Regions from separate parts of the Homo sapiens genome. Here all the other regions are linked to region 2. The links come from fine-mapping of genetic effects on gene expression. A gene starts in region 2. Each other region holds a variant in brackets. All regions are shown on one strand. Distances are between the middles of the regions.

Region 1 (2,770 bases), 35 kb before region 2:
AGTAAAAATCCTACAGTTAAAAATACAGTCTTCAGTATTTAAAAACATATCTTGTAAGTAGAATAAGTACTACAGTAGGCACAGCTGAAGAGAAGATTAGAAATATGGAAGATGATCTGAAGAAATCAGCTAGAATGCATCACAAAGTAAAGAGATGTAAAGCATGAAAATTTCAGAAAAAAAAAAAAAGCCCAACATGAGTTCCAGAAGGAAAGGCTAGGTTAGAGGAAATATCTAAGAGATAATGGCTGAGAACTTTCAGAATGAAAGCAGGATATAAATCTTTAAATTGAAGTTGTATTCATAGTCTTAAAACTTAGTTTAAAAAACATAGTTTAAAAACTTCAAAGCCATACACACAAAAAGAAATATTACTAAAAAAGAAAACTAGTTAATTATAATGGCAGTAGATTTCTCATCAGTGAAAGTAGATGCCATAACACAATGGAATAAAGTGTTCAAAATACTCAGGGGAAATCTCTGTTAACATAGAATTCTACCACCTTTGATAGTAAAAACAAAAAAATAGACATTCAGCCACAGCCACAAAGGATCTTGGTATTTCTAACAAGTAAACTCAAACCACTTATGTATAATTGAAGCTACAAAAATTCAACCATGGTCTATACAACAAGTTAATTTCACATTTTTTTCAAGGACAGACAAAGTTTAAATGCAAAGTTTTCTAGGACAAATATTTTAACAGATATAGTTTTTTAAACAAACATTTTGTGACTCAGGATTATAAATCAACCAAATTTATAAATTATTTTATTCTTCTTAGCAAACATATGGAAAGAGAAACTCAACTTTATGATGATAATATAAAAAACAAACAAAGACTTACCACAATGGTTCATGCTTATAACTTCACCTCTTTAGGAGGCTGACGTGTGAGGGTCACTTGAAACCAGGAATTTCAGACCAGCTGGGCAACAAAGGGAGACCTCATCTCTAAAAAAAATTGTTTTAAATAAATTAGCTGAGTGTGGTGGCACACGCCTGTGGTCCCAGCTACTCGGGAGGGTGAGGTTGGGGATGGCTTGAGCCCAGGAGGTCGAGGCTACAGTGAGCTGTTATTGCACCACTACATTCCAGCCTGGTGATGAAACAGGAATTAAAAGAAATTAAAGAACGTGTAAGCGAAAACTCAGTTGTATGTAAAAAAACCCAATTCCCCCTGAGAAAGAAAAAGAGGTGGAGTCCTTTAAAAATTAACGCCTGTTTTTCTGTCTGTGGCTTGTGAGTCTTATCTCTCTCTTTCCCAGGCATTGCGAAGATCCTGTTTCTCTAACTGTGCAGTTGCAAGGTTACTAGGCAGATAAACTCAAGTCGTAAAACATGTTTTTCCTTGAAAAGTTAGAAATAATGTAATGAGTGTCTCAATTGAATAACGGTCTTTGTTTCTCACTTCTGTAATATGCTTCCCCCTGCAAAGATCTCCC[G/C]CTGCCCCATGAAATGCTTAAAAGGTAACCTCACTCTTTGTTCGGGGCTCAGTCTTTTTGGATGCTAATCTGACTAGGCCAGTGCACCTAAATAATAAATAATATATATCCTCTCCGGCCCCTCAGTCTCTCTGATTCCTAAATTATCCCACTGCAGTGACACAGTGAGATCCTAAGAAAACAAACAATAAATTTAATGTAATTTTGTAGTAATTCACCGGTTAATGTTTGCTTACTTTCTTTTTTCTATATAATCTATGTTATAATCAGAGGTTTACCTTTCCAAAGACTAATGGTAGTTGTCTTCTAATTTTTTTCAAGTTTCCCCATTAAACTCATCCTTAGGGCTTGTAAACTCCTATTGTCCTTCCCAGCAAAGTCTAAGTTGAAGAACGTAGAGCTTATAATATTCTGTATCTACAAAAGACTAAGAGTTTAATATCTCTTGTATTGGTTCATTCTCACACTGGTGTAAAGAATTACCTGAAACTGGGTAACTTATAAAAAGAGATTTAATCAACTCACAGTTCCACAGGCTGTACAAGAGGCATGCCTGGGGAGGCCTCAGGAAAGTTACAATCATGGTGGAAGGGTGAAGGGGAAGCAAGCATGTCTTTACATGGTGGCATGAGAGAGACAGAGAAGTGGGAGTGCCACACACTTTTAAACCACCAGATCCCACGAGAATTCACTCACTATCATGAGAACAGCAAGGGGGACATGCACCCCCATGATCCAATTACCTGCCACCAGGTCCTTCCCCCAACATTGAGAACTGCAATTCAACATGAGATTTGGGTAGGGAGACAGAGACAAACCATATCACCTCTAAACGATACTGAAGACTGCCAGTGAATGTATTTCAGCAAGATGAAACAAGAACCCAGGAGAAAAAAATACCATGCAAGTATCAGTGATGAGCAAGGAAGTCAGAGATATGTGTTTGTCAATTGAGTAGAAATTAAAATTAATTTGTGACAACATTTACAAATTAACAATGTGAAACTTAAACACCAGACAACAATAATAAAGGAAGATTGGAGGGAAAATTTAGAAAGGAGTTCCGGTGTGCTAAATTCTTGTCTTGTTCAAATAAAGAACAAAGATATTGACTAAAAAGAGACCATGTTACAAAATTATAAAAACTAAGAATGACTGTAAAAGATATAGTTAACTATTAATATCATTAAATATTTATGTCTTAAGGAGAAGTACTATGTATCACTTTTAAAATAGGAGAGAAACTAAAAGCAGGGACTCCAGTGCTACAAAGCTTGGGTTTCTTGGTGCCACCATTTACAATACATGAACCTTGGGAAAGCTAT
Region 2 (2,770 bases):
CTGAACATAGGACTTACAAACAAAAAAAAAGTCAAGGAATACAAAGTAGCTTTCCCAGGTGTAAAGTACCGGGTCTAGAATTCTATGAGGCTAGGGAGAAGATAAACGACAAAAGCTATAAGAGATCAGAATGAAAAGAGATCCACAAGCCTAAGAAGCCCAGGCCCTTGAGGAGAACCATGAATTTGAGCAGGATTTCACTAATTCCTTTAAAAAGTAGCCATTGCCTCAAAGTACGACTCCATCAGCATAGGCAGGAAAGTGGGAGTGAGGAAAGGCTTAGAGTTTTCCAGCCTGGCTGGGGTCAGACAATTTGCCTGGGGAAATAGTGGGAGCTGAGGTTGAAAAGACCGATTGGCTTCACGTTTGTGGCAGGCCTTGTCCAAAAAGCAATAGGAAGTCGTTGAAAGGTTTTGTGCAGGGGAGCGACAGGATTAAGGCACTACTTAGTAGGAAGTCATATCAAAAGCAGCAACCTGACAAATGGCAAATACGACAGAAGGAAAAAAAATAACAGGAATTTTCTTCACAATGACTCGACTTTGAGGTAATAAATGCCTGAGCCACATTGGAAGCAGGGGTCTCAGAAGGAAGGCGCAGATGGGAAAGGCTTTTCTGGGCGGTGGCGTTTCAATGCAAGGAGGGCGCTTGAATCACTGACAGACTTCAAGTTAAGGGAGTTTTCGTGGCTGAGGTTAGTAAGTCACACGCACAGCTCTCCAAAGGCATGTATGGGGAACGCCAGCCTTGGCTAAAAGACTGATTCAAGTTATGTCCGTCACCCTGAGCAACCAAAACCACCCACTACAGGGCAGGTGACCCCACAAAGCAAACCAAGCCATCTGGTCCACGCTCCCCACCTCCCGGAGGGAGATGGAAAAGTTTCGGGAGTAGTCCCCGGCCAATCGGAAAGACATTTTTTCATTCCTCAACCACTACTCTCAGGTGCTCCAGGGAGGGAGGATGACTTCCTGACGGTCCTCCTGCCGCTCCTCCCTCGGGCCAATTATGAAACTCTGGGCACTCTTGACCTCACCCCGTTAGGGCCCGGGAGGGGCTCCCTAGTATAAAGTTCGCAGCACCAGACAGTTGAGCTCACTTGCCTGATATTTCCAGTGTCAGAGGGACACAGCCAACGTGGGGTCCCTTCTAGGCTGACAGCCGCTCTCCAGCCACTGCCGCGAGCCCGTCTGCTCCCGCCCTGCCCGTGCACTCTCCGCAGCCGCCCTCCGCCAAGCCCCAGCGCCCGCTCCCATCGCCGATGACCGCGGGGAGGAGGATGGAGATGCTCTGTGCCGGCAGGGTCCCTGCGCTGCTGCTCTGCCTGGGTAAGTTCTCCCCCTCTGGCTTCCGGCCGCCCCAAAGAGGAGACAAATAAGGAAGGCTCCTGTGCATTTGTCATTCGACAAGTACGGAGTTGTCTCCAGGTTCAAGTGTGCTCTATTTAAAATTACGTCTTGTTTTGTGAGTCTGTCTTCCCCTATGGTGGGACTGGGGTGGGGGGGACTGGGGATCGATGTTAAAATGCTTTTTATTGGTGAATTAATTATTGGCATATATGTTATGCATGGATTGAAATATCTCCTTATTAAACAAAATAAAAAGTTGTTGAAAAAGCTTTTTTTTTTTTTTTGAAAAGTTGCCAGTCCTAGAAATCTAAAGGCCTGGAACGCACTGTTAACATTTCATGTCTTGTTCCTTTTTGTTGGAGAGTGGGGAATAGAAACTAGCGTAAGAAATTTTTTGGAGGGGGGAAAAAGCTTTTCTCCTCTGTCTTGCGCTCAGTTTTCTAAAACCTAGCCTGGTTTAGCTTTCCCGGAGGAGCTGGTATGCGCCAGTGCCAGTTGGCTGAGCTCCAGACACAAGAGAAATAAAACACTGGTCGAGGGTATCTGGAGCAGAAGGGCCCTGGGCAGGTCCTGGCGCTCCCCACCGCCCTTCGCCCCTACACCTGCTGCTTGCGTTTTTCCCTGCAGCCTCCCAAGCAGCCTCTGGAGCAAGCGTTCTGCACTTGCTGCTAATTGCACTCCATAGCCTGTGATCGCTGAGGGTATTTAAATGCCAGTCTTCCTATTTGAGATGATTTAGTTCAAGGGGAAAAATTTTCTAAATAGCCTTTCTGTTAAAAAAAAATTACTTCTTTCCAATTCCTTAAACTTCAGTTTAAGGAATTTGAAAGAGTTTGAAGTCGTATATGAATATCTTAATAAAAAAATAAAAGTTACCACCAGTCTCATATTCTCCCTGGAGTTGGAATGAGGCTGATTCCCCAGACACTCTAACTCTACCTGTGAAGGATGTGACTGTTAAATTATTATTTTGGCACACCTTATCTCAGGGGTTGAGAGACCTAATGAAATGCATACTATGCATAATTGAAACTTACAAGTCTAAGTCCAGGAACACAAGTGGAAACTAGATATGTGGTTTCTGCCAAAACTGAGCTAAGAAAGACTTGCTAGAAGATTCTCAGTAAACAATGTGGCTTTGCTGTCTTTGTTTTGAAAAGAATTAAATTAGAAAGGTGACAGTCTTCCTAGAGTTAGAAATTAACCTCGAGGTCAGAATAACTTAGCACTTATTATTTTCCCCACATGTAAGGTTGCATCTGAACAATGCACATGTCTGTTCTGGGTGTTTCATTGAATATTCTAATTTGAGACAGCCAGAGCCTGTGAATAACCTGGTTACTACCCACTAGTGTGTGTGTTGTGTGTGTGTTTGTTGTCATGAAAGTGCTTACCTCCTTCATTGCATTACTTAATTATAG
Region 3 (2,770 bases), 100 kb before region 2:
CCAGCATTGTATTGTTGGTGTTCCTGGCTAATGCAACAAGTTGACAGACATGAGTTAGGAGACAAAGACTTCTAAGAGGAGACGAGGTGGTGTTCTTTGAAGGTATGATAGTTTATCCATAAAGCTCAAGATAATCAACTGATAAAATATTAGAACTAATGAGAAAGTTCAGCAAGGTTGCTGAATACAATAACAACGTAAATGTAGGTAGTATCTACAGATATCAATAATATATAATTAGAAAATGTAATAGAAAATATATTCCACTCACAGTAGTAATAAAACTATAAAATTCATTGGAATAAAACTAAACAGAAACAAGAATATAGAAAGAACTTTTCAAATATATAATCAAAGGGAAAAGTCTGAGCAAGTAGAGCTCTAACCCATGTTTTTGCGTGGGAGAATTTATTCACGTAAGAATGCTATTATTGCCAAATAAAGCAATAAATTCCATACCATCCAAAGGCTCATGATTTTGCACAGGAGTGGAAAGATTTATTCCACAAAAGCATTATCTTATAAATAATGTGACCATATGTCATGATTTATTTGAAATAGTTCAAAATTATGCCTAGCAACTTGTAATTATTATTAGCATCCACATATTTATAAGAATAAAGATTAATTGGAAGAAAAAGCGTAAGAAGACTTTTTCCTTCTGCTTCTTAGCTTTCCCACTTGCAAGTTGTGTGAGCTTGCTACCTAAGTTATAAGTTACTCAAGCTCTCTGTTCCTCAGTTTCCTTACCTCCGAAGTAGGGATAATAACATCTACATCATATATTGTTCTAAGGTCAAATAGAGATAATACGTGTAAAGCACTTAGAACGCTGACTGACTCAACAAATGTTAATTATTATGAACAGAGTAGTATTTTATTCTGTCTCAAATCATATTATAAAGAACTGGTAATTAAAATTAAAGCATAGGCATAAGAAAAGACAAATAATGGGGAAGGATGAAAAAACAAACACACATTCGTATGTGTGAATCTATGTAAATAGGGTAGTGTCATTAAACACTGGGGAAAAACTAAATACTTCAATCAATAGTATTAAAACATTTGACTTCCCATTTAGGAAAAAAATCTAGTTAAACTCCTACTCACCCCATACATACAAATATATTTCAGATGAGATAAAGAACATAAATTAAAAACAACAAAAATAAAAATTATTGGAGAACTTAATAGAACTTGGTCATAAATTT[A/G]GAGCAGGTAGGATTTTCTTAGAAAAGATACACACAAATATACAGACAAATATGTGAGTAAAAATAAACAGAAAAGCTGGAGGTATATATATATAATTCCTAAAATCTATGGAACAAGTGCCTCTTAGAGTTAAAATTTTAGCATTTTATTGGGAGAAAATATTTGCATTATACATAACAAAGAATTAGTATGCAGCATATATAAATATGTTTTTAAAAATATGGTTGAAAATACAAAAACCTAACTTTTAAAAGAACAATTTATAGGAAAGGATATTTAAATGGCTAATACACATGTAAAAATTGCTCAATGTCACTGATAATCAGACAATTGCAAATTAAAGCAAAACAAGACACTGTTTGCACACATCAGATTGGCAAAAAATGAAAAGCTTGATGATATCAAATGTTGGCAAGGATCCAGGGAAGCACATACTTGCATATGCTGCTGATGAAGTTATGCTTTATTATAGTCCCTCTAGAAGGTAATTTGACAATGTTATGAAATCTGAAAATGTGCACTTCATATGACCTAGAGATTCCATTATTTTTCCACATATCTAAAAATACCTGACCTGTATATTCAGAAATCTGTATTACAGCTCGTTGGTGATAGTAAATAATTGAAAGCAGCTAAAACATTCACCAATAGAGGAATAGAGTGTGTACTTATCTCTCAACTCACCAAGTTGTTTACATTAAATATGGACAGCTTTCTGTATGTCAGTTACACCTTAGTAGTTTCAAAATTTTAATCCAAATGTAATCCTATATATATATGTGTATATATGTATACATATGTATGTATATTTATGTGTGTGTGTGTGCTGTCTTATTTCTACGTTCTCTATTCTGTTCCATTGGTCTGTGTGTCTGTTTTTGTACCAGTACCACGTTGTTTTGGTTAATGTAACCCTGTAAATATAATTTGAAGTCGGGTAGCATGATGCCTCCAGTTTTGTTCTTTTTGCTTAAGATTGCCTTGGCTATTTGAGCTCTTTTTTGGTTCCATATGAATTTTACAATTGTTCTCTCTAGTTCTGTGAAGAATGTCAACATTCTAAAATCTATAAATTGAATCTATAAATTGCTTTGGGCAGTATGGCCATTTTAATGATATTGATTCTTTCTATCCATGAACATGGAATGTTTTTCCATTTTTTTTGTGTCATCTCTGATTTCTTTGAGCAATGGTTAGTAGTTCTCCTTGTAGAGATCTTTCACCTCCCTAATTAGCTGTATTCTGAGGTATTATATTTTACTCTTTTTGTGGTAATTGTGAATGGGAGTTCATTCCTGATTTGGCTCTTGACTGGTGTTGTTATATAGGAATGCTAGTGATTTTTGCATATTAATTTTGTATTTTGAGACTTTGAGGAAGTTGTTTTTCAGCTTAATAAGCTTTCTGGCTGAGACTGTGGGGTTTTCTAAATATAGGATCATGTCATCTGCAAACAGGGATAGTTTGACTTCCTATTTAGATGCCTTTATTTCTTTCTCTTGCCTGCATAATTCAGTATATTAAAAGGGCAATGCATCATGACCAAATAAGGTTTATC

What was found.
Region 1: its variant is fine-mapped to the expression of EREG in whole blood (TOPMed, PIP 0.98).
Region 3: its variant is fine-mapped to the expression of EREG in whole blood (INTERVAL, PIP above 0.99).

Annotation. Positions count from the first base shown.
Region 1 is chr4:74,329,351-74,332,120 of GRCh38, forward strand. LOC105377276 (a long non-coding RNA gene) reads right to left here. Exons shown (of 3, transcript NR_188415.1): 2 at 848-954. Among named protein-coding and RNA genes, the nearest start is that of EPGN, 22 kb to the left of the region's middle. RefSeq lists a cis regulatory region at 1,137-1,436. The variant G/C (reference allele first, on the strand shown) is at 1,446.
Region 2 is chr4:74,364,048-74,366,817 of GRCh38, forward strand. It overlaps EREG (epiregulin), which reads left to right and starts at 1,098. Exons shown (of 5, transcript NM_001432.3): 1 at 1,098-1,328. The coding sequence starts at 1,262. It overlaps LOC105377276 (a long non-coding RNA gene), which reads right to left and starts at 1,294. Exons shown (of 3, transcript NR_188415.1): 1 at 1,104-1,294.
Region 3 is chr4:74,261,108-74,263,877 of GRCh38, forward strand. All of the region lies in intron 6 of MTHFD2L (methylenetetrahydrofolate dehydrogenase (NADP+ dependent) 2 like), which reads left to right. Among named protein-coding and RNA genes, the nearest start is that of EPGN, 46 kb to the right of the region's middle. The variant A/G (reference allele first, on the strand shown) is at 1,212.